Linked DNA regions of Homo sapiens: region 1 is linked to region 2. Evidence: fine-mapped QTL for protein levels in blood plasma. Region 2 holds a variant in brackets. A gene starts in the other region. All regions are shown on their forward strands.

Region 1 (5,378 bases), not on the chromosome of region 2:
AGCAGACAGAAGCGGAGGGGTGAGGCACGGGAGCCAGATGGCCCGAGGCCCCAGGGACTGGCCTGCCCATTCACCCTTCAGCCCAACCTGGGCTGTGTGGCAGGCGGGGTCCCTCTCTTGCAGAGCCCACTATGATCCCAGTAAGTGTGACGTGTGCTGTGGATGCCCCCGCGGGGGCCCCTCACCTGGTCTGCAGTGTGGTCCTGGAAGGATGTGTAACACTTGGCTAGATGAAGCGTGGGCTGGGGGCACCCCCTGGCAGTAAGGGCAGCAAGAATTGGTGACTAGAGGCAAGTGAGCTCATCTCAAAAAACCAGGCCCCGGGCAAGGCTGCCACACGGGCATGGGCGGGGAGATGGAGGAGGCCACAGGCGTGGGCCCAGGTCGGGAGGCCGGGTGAGCCTGGTTAAGATCTCGGCCTTAAGCTTCAGGCAACAGACCCCTGCAGGGACTGTCCCAGAGGGTCTCAGCAGGCAGAGACGAGGCTGCAGCCTGGAGAGTGGATGGGAGGGGACTCGTCAGGAGAGGGCACAGAATCCGGGCGAGGGGTGACAGAGATAAGTGGCAGGGAGATATATCGGGGCTCCGTGGTGTTCCGATGGGGAAGATAGATGAAAAGGGTCAGGGCTGCAGCCCAGGGTGGGCCAGGCTGGGGGAAGAACAGGGAGGAAATGCTGAAGTATCCCCAAGACACTGACACTCAGGCCAGGACTGGGGAGGTCCGGGTCTCCACCTTCTGGCCTGGTGTTCTTGCCTCCGTGTAATTTCCACGCTTTTGTCTTCGTCTGCCTCCCTCCCCCACACCCTGCCAATGGAGAGACAGTTATGGTTTCTCTGGCTCGGTAAGAATCCTGTGATACCTGACACTGTCCCCTCAGTTCAGCAAGCCTGGGGCAGGCCTCTGGGTGGCACTGCTGTGGGCACCGGCTGGGAGTCTGGGCCTGGTGACCTTGAGGCTGCTTGGAGGGGGCCTGGTGGACGGCTGCAATGGCATCCCCAGAGCTTGTCGGAAATGCAGTCATGGCTGGCCTTGCCCTAGCCCCTCTGCATGGGAGTCTGCATGAACAAGCGCCCTGGGAGCTGGGTGCACTGGCTGGTGAGCAGCTTTGCTCTGGGACTCGTGCTCGCTGGCACTGTGCAGCCACCCCTTGTCGGGGCTCCCCGGGCACCACTGGAGGCCTTACCGTGACCCTGAGAACCACCTTAGTTACACCTCACCTTACAAGTGAATGAGCTGACACCCAGAGAGGCAAATGGGCTCCACATCCACAGTCAGTGAGCCACAGGCAGGGGGTCTGCTCGGGGGAGCCCACCTCTCCTCCCTGTGTCAATGTCAGTAGATGGCTAAAGGGGCCAGGGTGTGACCGCCTGTCCTGTGTGCTGGGGACTGTGCTGGTTTTAGCACTGAAGTTTCCCTGTGTCCTGGGAAACCCCTCAGTCCCAGGCACGCCGGTATGGGTGGACGCCCTCTCCACTTCTGCCCCCAGCCACTTCACTCTGCTGCAGCCACTAGGTTTGTCCGTCCTGGGAGAGTAACTCAGGGCCTTGGAAAAATGGCCAACTGGCCAGGCGCGATGGCTCACGCCTGTAATCCCAGAACTTTGGGAGGCTGGGGCAGGTGGATCACTTGAGGTCAGGAGTTCAAGACCAGCCTGGCCAACATGGTGAAACCCCGGCTCTACTAAAAATACAAAATAATAATAATAATAAGCTGGGCATGGTGGTGTGCACCTGTAGTCCCAGCTACTCAGGAGGCTGAGGCAACAGAATTGCTTGAATCCGGCAGGCAGAGATTGTAGTGAGCCGCTGCACTCCAGCCTGGGTGACAGAGCAAGACTCTGTCTCAAAAAAAAAAGGGGGGGGGGCAACGAAGCACCTGGCAGGTGGCGTCGCTGCCCTTTGTGTGGCAGCGGCTATTTTTGCCTGATTCCTTCATACAGTTGAGACCCGGCTGCCTGTGTTGGCCCCTTCGTGCAAATCAGAAAAAAAGGTGCTCTTCCTTGGAGTGGGTGCAGGCCTAGGCCAAATGCACAGGTCTGAGAGAGGGCCAAGCTGAATTCTAACCCACTTGCCCTTTGGCTGGTATCCTTGTGCAGTGAGTAATCTGCCCAACTGTACACAGAGGCCCTGTGGGCCTGGGAGCAGCAATGATTGTTGCTGGACTCAGGAGCCCTGGATCCCCAGCTCCAGGCCTATGTGCAAACAGGGAGGCATGACCCCCACTTGCCTGTGTAGAGAGAGGGGTGCCCTGGCCGGGCGCGGTGGCTCACACCTGTAATCCCTACACTTTGGGAGGCCGAGGCGGGTGGATCACCAGAGGTCAGGAGTTTGAGACCAGCCTGGCCAAGATGGCGAAACCCTGTCTCTACTAAAAATACAAAAATTAGCTGGGCGTGGTGGCACGCGCCTGTAATCCCAGCTACTTGGGAGGCCGAGGCAGGAGAATCGTTTGAACCCAGGAGGCAGAGGCTGCAGTGAGCGGACATTGCATCACTGTACTCCAGCCTGGGTGACAGAGTGAGACCCTGTCTCAAAAAAAATAAAAATAAAAAAGAGAGAGAGACTGAGAGGGGTGCCCACCTGAGAGCTAGAGGCAGGAGCTTACCTGGCTGCGGTAGCTGCAACGGCCGTGTGGAGCCTCCTCGCTTCCAGCCACAGGATCCCTCTGCAGACTGGTCCTTTGACCCAGAAGCCTCTCCCAGTATGGAGCGTGGTCAGGCTGATCCCAGGAAATGCTTCAGAAAAGAGTCTACTTTCGATTTCCAGAAACCACCTGACATAGATGTCTTCCGGGATTGGCTGCTGCTGATACTCCCCAGGGCCCCTCTCTTTTGTCTCAGCTCTGCCTGTGGCTATCAGTGCCAGGCTGGCAGAGGCCCAAGGTGGGAGTCTGGCTGGAGCAAGGCCTGCAAGAGGACTAACAGCCACACTCAGTTGGAAAGGCCGCCAGGCTGGTCAGGGGCTGGCGTTTGGTGGACGGGAGGGGAAGAAGCAGAGGCTCTGGGCCCAGACAGTCTGCACCTGGTGGTGTGGCTGTGGACTCTGACAGAGCGCTCCGAGTCTTTTCCTGGGTCTAGCACGTTGCTGGCTGGGTGAACACCACACAGGGGGCTGCTTATGTGCAAATCCACCCTCTCTGTGCTCTTGGCATGCTGACCACACAGAGGGCCTGTGCCCCACAAGGTTGCATGGCACTGTCCCCTGTCCCCAGGGGAGGGAGGCACTGAGAACCAGGTATGCAGCTGGCCAGTGGAGGAGCTGGACCCTGCTCCAACACCTGACCCCAGAGCCTGTGCTCGCCACTGCTGGACCTGTGGCCACTCTCCTACTGTCTCCCCCTCAGCGGGGCGGGGGACAGAGCCTCTCTGGGTGACATAATGGCTCTGTCCAGCTCATACCCATTCCCTTTCCTCCCACTGAAAGCCGGCACCTCAACTGTCCCTTGGGGAGCACCCCCTCCCATTCCCGGCTGTGTGGTTCCCAGAGGGCCCCCAGCTCTTGGCCTTCAACCACCCAAGGCCTGGCTGTCTGAGCCCTGCGGGGGCCCCGGGCCACACTGCTGGTTTCAGGGTGGGGCTGTGAGCCCAGCCAGCCGGTGAGAGCCAGCTTCTGACTGAGAGGATGTGGGCCCAGGCTGCTGGGGCCGGTGGGGCAGAGCAGAGGGAAGCAGGCATCCTCCGGCCTGAGCTCCTGGGTCCAGCTGGCCTAATCCATGGTCAAGGCTGGGCTTCACCGCTCAGTGAGGCAATCAGCAGCCGCTCTTGTTTCTGTCACTTGCACCCCATGGTTCTGGATGAGCCTTGGGATGTGCCCAGGCCTCTGACCAGTGGTTCTCAGCCTGGGCTGGACAGAAGAATCATCAGGGAGTTTTACAAACTCCTAATGCCTAGACCCAGGAAGTCACCATCTCTGGGAGTAGGGGACAGGCAGGGGCATTTAAAAGCCCCCAGGCAGTCCCACTGGGTGGAAGGCCCTGGTTCCCTGGCAGCTTAGAGTCCGAGACAGCCAGCCCAGAGGTCAGACATTCAATGACTATTTCCTTCAAGGTGTGAGGTTTTAGGCAGCTGCACGGTTTGCCTAATCCCCTCCAGAGGAACTGTGAAGATCCAGGGGCAGGTGCAGCTGGAAATAGAACTGGCTGTGGGGAGTTTAAAAAAATCTCATCTGGATTAAGGGCCTGAGTGCACAGAAACCCCAGCATCATCCCTTCTCAGCAGTGCTAATGACTTCTGCCCAAGTGGCCAGGGAAGGACAGGAGTGCAGAGGACGGGAGGGCATCTCTGGGAAGTGCTGGGAAAGGTTTTAAAACTCAGGTGCCGAATCTTTAGCCCCAGAGTCCGGGAAAGTCCTAAGCCATCCAGGCAGGTAAAATGGAAAACCCAGAGGCCTCCTCGTGGAATCGGAGCACCAACATCTGCTCCCCTGGGGCTCGCAAGGCCTTTCCGGTGTGCGATGACCATGGGGTGGAGGGAAGCGCTGACAGGGGACAGGCAGGGGAAGGGGCAGCGGCTCGGCTCTGAGAAGACAGCTGGGTGAAAGCCTCAGATTCGTGTGGACAGAACTGCTGTCATCAGGAAGCCGCTCCCAAGACATGGTAGGGAAAGTGCGGGGCATTTCAGAGATGAGAATGGTTAACTGGCCTGTAAGGTCATCTTTTGTGCCTCTACCCCAAACCTCTCCGCAAATTGAGGAACGCTCCCTATAATAGCTAATATGGATTTCGCCAGGCATTACTATAAGCCTTGCCACAAATGAATGCATTTAATACTTCCAGCCATGATGGGAAGCAGCTGCTCTTATATTCCCTGTTACAGATGAGAAAACAGAGGCTCAGTGAGGCGACGTAATCGGCTAAAGTTGTGCAGCTGGTAGGGGAAGAACTGGGGTTTCAAACCCATCCTTTCCTTCTTTTTAAAAATTGGCTTTCTTGGCATATAATTTACGTGCAAAGTTTTGGCAAATGTGTAGCGATGGTATCATGACAACAATCATTACCTAGGGCGTTTCAATCACCCCTAAGAATTCTCTTATGCCCCTCTGCAGCCACCCCTCCCCCCAGCCCCTTCCCAGCAACCACCTCTCAGCTTCTGCCACTGCTGGTTGCCTTTCCTAGAATTCCCTCTATTTTGTCTTCTTTTTTAAGACACAGTCTCCCTCCATTGCCCAGGCTGGAGTGCAGTGGAACAATCTCGGCTCACTGCAATCTCTGCCTCTCAGGTCCAAGTGATTCTCCTGCCTCGGCCTCCCGAGTAGCTGGGATTACAGGTGCGCCCACCACCACGCCCAGCTAATTTTTGTATTTTTAGTAGAGAAGGGGTTTCTCCACATTGGCCAGGCTGGCCTCGAACCCCTGAACTCAGGTGATCCGCCTGCCTCTG
Region 2 (5,378 bases):
CCTGGAACATTGAATATATTAAATAAATATTGAATATACTGAATAAATAGAATATGCTGAATATTCATATATGAATAGATGAATAACTATATAGATATAAATATTCATTATATAATTACATCTATAACATGTAATACATATTTATATATACATTATATAATATATAATTTATATTATGTTAATATATTACATAATATATTATATAATAGGCAAATATATAATATATATAATATATAATATAATAAATATATTATCATATTAATATAACATATATTATAAATATATATTTCCCAATTATATTATATGTAATACCATATATATTTGGCAATTATATAATATATAATATAAATATATGTATAATTATATGTAATTTATATTATGTTAATATATTATATATTATATTAGTTGGCAAATATATTATATATTATATATTTTATATATCATAGAATTGGCAATATATAATATTAAATATATTTATATTATTATATAATATATAATTATATATATATATATGGCACAGGCATAGTACAAAAGTGAGTGATTAACTCTTTTGGGGAAGTGGGTAATCAAGGTAGGAATACAGAAAAGATGACAATGAATCAGGGTTTTGAAAATGAGCAGAATCTGGGGTAAGGTCATTCCAGGATGGAAAATATCATGTTAAAAAGCATGAAGGTATGAACAATATGGAACTGAGAGCAGTTTTAATTTTTCATAAAGACAACATTTATTTTTCACCTTAACATTTATTTTTAATATGCCTTACTTAGGTTAAGAGAAAACAAAGATTTAAAAAGCCAAGTGTCCCTTTTATTATTATACTTTCTTTTCACATAACCTTTTCAGCCTAGATTCAGGTAACTTCCTGTCTCTCCCATTAAAGGAGAGGGGTCCTGCACATTACAACAGGCAAAAAAGGCTTTCAGGAAATAAAATGTTTTAATTTGATCTATTACATCTGTTCAATTTTCTTGAGTACCTTCGAGAGTGGGAAAAAGACAAAAGGAGAAAAAAATGGTATTTTAAACAAACAGACTATAATAACCTTAGTTAGGTTGGTAGTACACTATTTATGCTTTTTCTCTAAACAGGTACAAAGGAGGTTCAAAAAGAAGAGGCTGGAGAGGCATGTAGCCGGTAGCATCCGACTCATCAATTTCTTCCTTTATTTTTCTGATCGCATAAATTGATCTGGCTTTCACAACCTACCCAAAATATAACATTGAATTACTATCTATACAAATGAAGTAAAAATTTATTGTTTGCTTTGGCAGTAGTGACCTGGATTAATATTATTAGTGAGACAATATATATTGTTTATGAAACATTTTGCTTTTCTCCCTTTCACTTTGAACTAGAGATGAAGCTTGATTTTGTTTTTTCTTTAAGTTTCTAACCTTTGATTTATTTTTTTTTAGCATATAGAAGTGATAATAAATATTTTGTGGATTACTATATTTTAAACCGTGGTTACCTTGGGAAGATTTATTTAATCTCTGAAAAAGGAAAACCACCTAGTACATGTCTATGAGTGATTTAGACTAACTGACACTATTTAGTCTATAAAATACCCCTGACAGGTGTAGTGGGCCAGAAGGGAGGTGAACACTGAAGCATACTCAGTGCAATGAGGAATGAACAATATTCCCTATGGCTACATTTGTGCACCATGGGAAGTCTGTTTGCTTTCTGGGCAATGTTCAAAAGGGATTGGTTTATCATGAACTGCACGAAATGTTGGTATGTATATTTTCCAGAAAAAAAAAAAAGCTCACATTCATCAGAGATAATGAAGCCATAGGATTTGTGGCATTTTCTGATGTTACTTTCTTTTTTCTTAGTCTGCACAGTCTCTCTGAGAATCTCATCTACTTCCATGGCTTGAACTACTGCCTGTGTCCTGATCAAGCCAATATAGCCAAACCAGATCTCAATCTCAGCATCAGCTTTTGTTTTACATAACACAACTAGCTACAAACGTGGATTTTCTACAGCAACCTAACTTTTCTTTTTCCAGGATTTTCACTGTGGTTATATCATCCATTTACATCATCTATTTATTATCATACCCACTTATTATTATCATCTACTTACTGTATAGTGGAGAATATGTGATATAGTTAGGAATATGCCGGCAAAGCACAGTCACGCAATCTGAGCCCAGAACTGCTTTTCTAGACCGCTCTCATCTATAAGACCCATATCTGACTGCACAAAAACTCCTGATTTCCTTTGATCCATTCCTTCCATTCTATTCCAATTTTTGGACTTCGGCTTATTTTTATCTACTCCAGCCAGGCATCTTGGGTAACAGCAATGGTGCAGACAATTAAGAGGAAAATCCAAGGGCATTAAGAGAGAGGACAAATTAATAGCATCTAAAACACAGCATTTTAACAAAGAATCGTAGGGAAAAAGTCAAACAGTAGAAGATACCTTTTTTCAGGAAAAAAAAAAAAAAACACCACACACATAAACTTGAAAAACATGATATTCAG[T/C]GGGTGAGTAGAGGAAGAAGACTCAGCACAAAAGACAAGGAAGAACTTTTTGACGCTGCAAGAGAAAAACAAGAAGCAGTCAGGGTCATGGAAAAGAACAAAGAAGTTCGTGGCCTGCAAGAAATCCATAACCTGCCACATAGAATTTAAGTTGTTTTTCCTGTGTGGTAGAAGCAGAAATAAAACCTTGCAAGATTGGCAGTAATAAATGTATAAAAATGAAAGTCCCTGAGTGCATAAATGAAAGTTGTTCATGCTCACGGTTTTTTGTTGAGAAGAGAGATACTGATGATTGCACTGAGATAGCACATCCAGGGGAGTTTTATTTATTTCTGGGTATTCCTCCTCATCTCCCCAACGTCTCAACAGCAGAGTGAGCCAGGGTCCAGTTTCTGTTCTGTTTTCTCTCCTATTTTCACTCCCTTGGTGATCTCACTAGCCTCATTGCTTTAAATATAATCTAGAAGGCTGATGACTCTTAAGTCTTTATCTCTTGCCCATAGCTCGTCTCTCAACTACAAACCCATATATGCACTGCCTAACAACACCCCTGCTTAGAATTCTAATATGGTGCAAACCTAGAGGTCTTCTTTTCCTCGCCTTTTCTCATCCACTACATCCAATCTCTCATCCAACCCTGTTGCTTTGTTTTCAAACGCTATGTAGAAACTGAGGGCTTCTTGTCACTTCCTTGCTAGCATCCTGTCCAAGCCCCATCATCCCTTTCACCGTGACATTTCTTTTTTTTTTTTTTGAGACAAGGTCTTGCTCTCTTGCTCAGGCTGGAGTGCAGCCGTGTGATCACATCACTGCAACCTTGACCTCCTGGGTTCAAGTGATTCTTCCACCTCAGCCTCCTGAGTAGCTGGGTCTACGGGTGCATGCCACCATGCCCATCTAGAGATGCAGTCTTACTATGTTGCCCAGGCTGATCTCAAACTCTTTAGCCTCAAGCAATCTACCCACCTCAGCCTCCCAAATTTTTGGCATTACACACATGAGCTATTGAGCATGGCCTCACCTTGTTGATTTTAATAGCTCCCTGACTTTCACGCTTACATTCTTGAATTAATTCTCCACACACTTCCCAGAAGAATCCTCTTAAAAAGTAAGGCAGATTGAGTCACTCCCATGCTCAAAGCCCCTGAATGCCTTCTCGTCTCACTCAGGCCGTCATTAAAGTCTGACTCAAAAAAGCAGACCACCTGTAATTCCTGCACTTTGGGAGGCTGAGGCGGGTGGATCACCTGAGGTCAGGAGTTCGAGACCATCCTGGCCCAATGATGAAACCCTGTCTCTACTAAAAATACAAAAAATTAGCTGAGTGTGGTGGCGGGTACCTCTAATCCCAGCTACTCAGAAGGCTGAGACAGGAGAATTGCTTGAACCTGGGAAACAGAGGTAGCAGTGAGCCAAGATCAGGCCACTGCACTCTAGCCTGGGCAACAAGAATAAAACTCTGTCTCCAAAAAAAAAAAAAAAAAAAAAAAAAGGAAAGAAAGAAAAAGCAAGCAAGCAAGCAAGCTGACTGTTCCTGAACATCCATTTTCAACCTACAACCCCTTGGGGCTTTGTCTTCCCCACCCTGGCTTCATTTTCTTTCCCCCAAAAACATATATTCCTTATTTGTCTTGTCTATCATCTGTCTTCTCTCATCCAAGCCAGATCCATGATGTGGACTTTTGATCTCTTTGGTTCAGGGATCAGAGAGTTCCTGAAGGTGCTCATTACATACATAATGCCGTATTTAAAATTACATAAATAAATGAAAGGCAAGATATTTTTCAAGATGACTGGATTTTATATCTTAGGTTATGCCTCAAGAAAACTTTGTGGTTCACTAAAGTAGGGATTTTAAAAATTCTTCTGTTACATATTGGAAAATAAAATATTTCTCTCTGCACTGCACGTAACTAGCAAACTGAAACAAAAAATATTACCCTCAGTGAACCCACTTTGCTTCAAAAGCATTTATTATTAAAATTACCAGATTATTTCAGCTGCTTACTCTGGTTATAATCATTGTAATTTTTTAGTAACGTGAACATACATACTTGCATGAGCCTTCATTAGCAGGCAGTGAACAACTCACACTGTTCAAGTGTGCCTTTTAATATCAGTTCCACAGTTAGGACAAAAAGTAGCTTCACATAAAGTTACTCTTCCTATTAAATGTCAGTGTGCTGATAAACGATTGTAAAATCCTTGGAGTTTGTGTAATCTATTAAAAGCACGTGCTCATGAGAAGTGAAACACGTTTCTGTAATATCAGCATTTTATCAAGTGGATGAAAAGTTTACAGGAAATTCATAATGAAAGAATTTCAAGGTTAATTTGTTGGGAACCATATACCTTACTTTTTTGTTTTTATTATAAAACATTTTAATAATATTATAGATATGTTAGGATGAAATTTCTGTCATCTCATCACCCTAATAAAGGAAAAAAACCCTTAATTTTTTAAATGAAACTCGAGTCTTTGGATGTATGTATACCTGTAACATAGTTCATATCATCATGCACGTATCATTTGGTATTACGCGTTTTCCTTAAAATCACCTCATTATTTTAATATTTCAAACGAATTTTTCAAACTTGAAATTTTTTTTATTATTCTTTAGGTTCTGGGATACACGTGCAGAACGTGCAGGTTTGCTACATTGGTATACATATGCCATGGTGGTTTGCTGCACCCATCAGCCCATCATCTAGGTTTTAAGTCCCACATGCATTAGGAGTTTGTCCTAATGCTATGCCTCCCCTTGCCTCCCACCTACTGACAGGCCCCGGTGTGTGATGCTCCCCTCCCTGTGTCCACGTGCTCTCACTGTTCAACTGTCACTTATGAGTGAGAACATGCAGTGTTTCTTTTTCTGTTCC

Which allele goes with the higher level. Alleles are on the strand shown, and positions count from the first base shown. The strength of an association depends on the size of the effect and on how common the allele is.
For the plasma level of the protein whose gene starts at base 2,705 in region 1, allele T in region 2 goes with a higher level than allele C (weak association).

Evidence for each region. PIP is the chance, under the fine-mapping model, that this variant and not a neighbour inherited with it causes the effect. The UK Biobank Pharma Proteomics Project read protein levels with antibody pairs (Olink). The fine-mapping took linkage between variants from a reference panel, not from the people measured, so its PIPs are less certain.
Region 1: LGALS3BP starts here. The variant in region 2 is fine-mapped to the plasma level of the LGALS3BP protein (UK Biobank, PIP above 0.99).

What each region holds. Positions count from the first base shown.
Region 1 is chr17:78,977,219-78,982,596 of GRCh38, forward strand. It overlaps LGALS3BP (galectin 3 binding protein), which reads right to left and starts at 2,705. Exons shown (of 6, transcript NM_005567.4): 1 at 2,606-2,705. RefSeq lists an enhancer at 2,739-3,731.
Region 2 is chr8:16,183,400-16,188,777 of GRCh38, forward strand. All of the region lies in intron 1 of MSR1 (macrophage scavenger receptor 1), which reads right to left. Among named protein-coding and RNA genes, the nearest start is that of MSR1, 6.6 kb to the right of the region's middle. The variant T/C (reference allele first, on the strand shown) is at 2,499.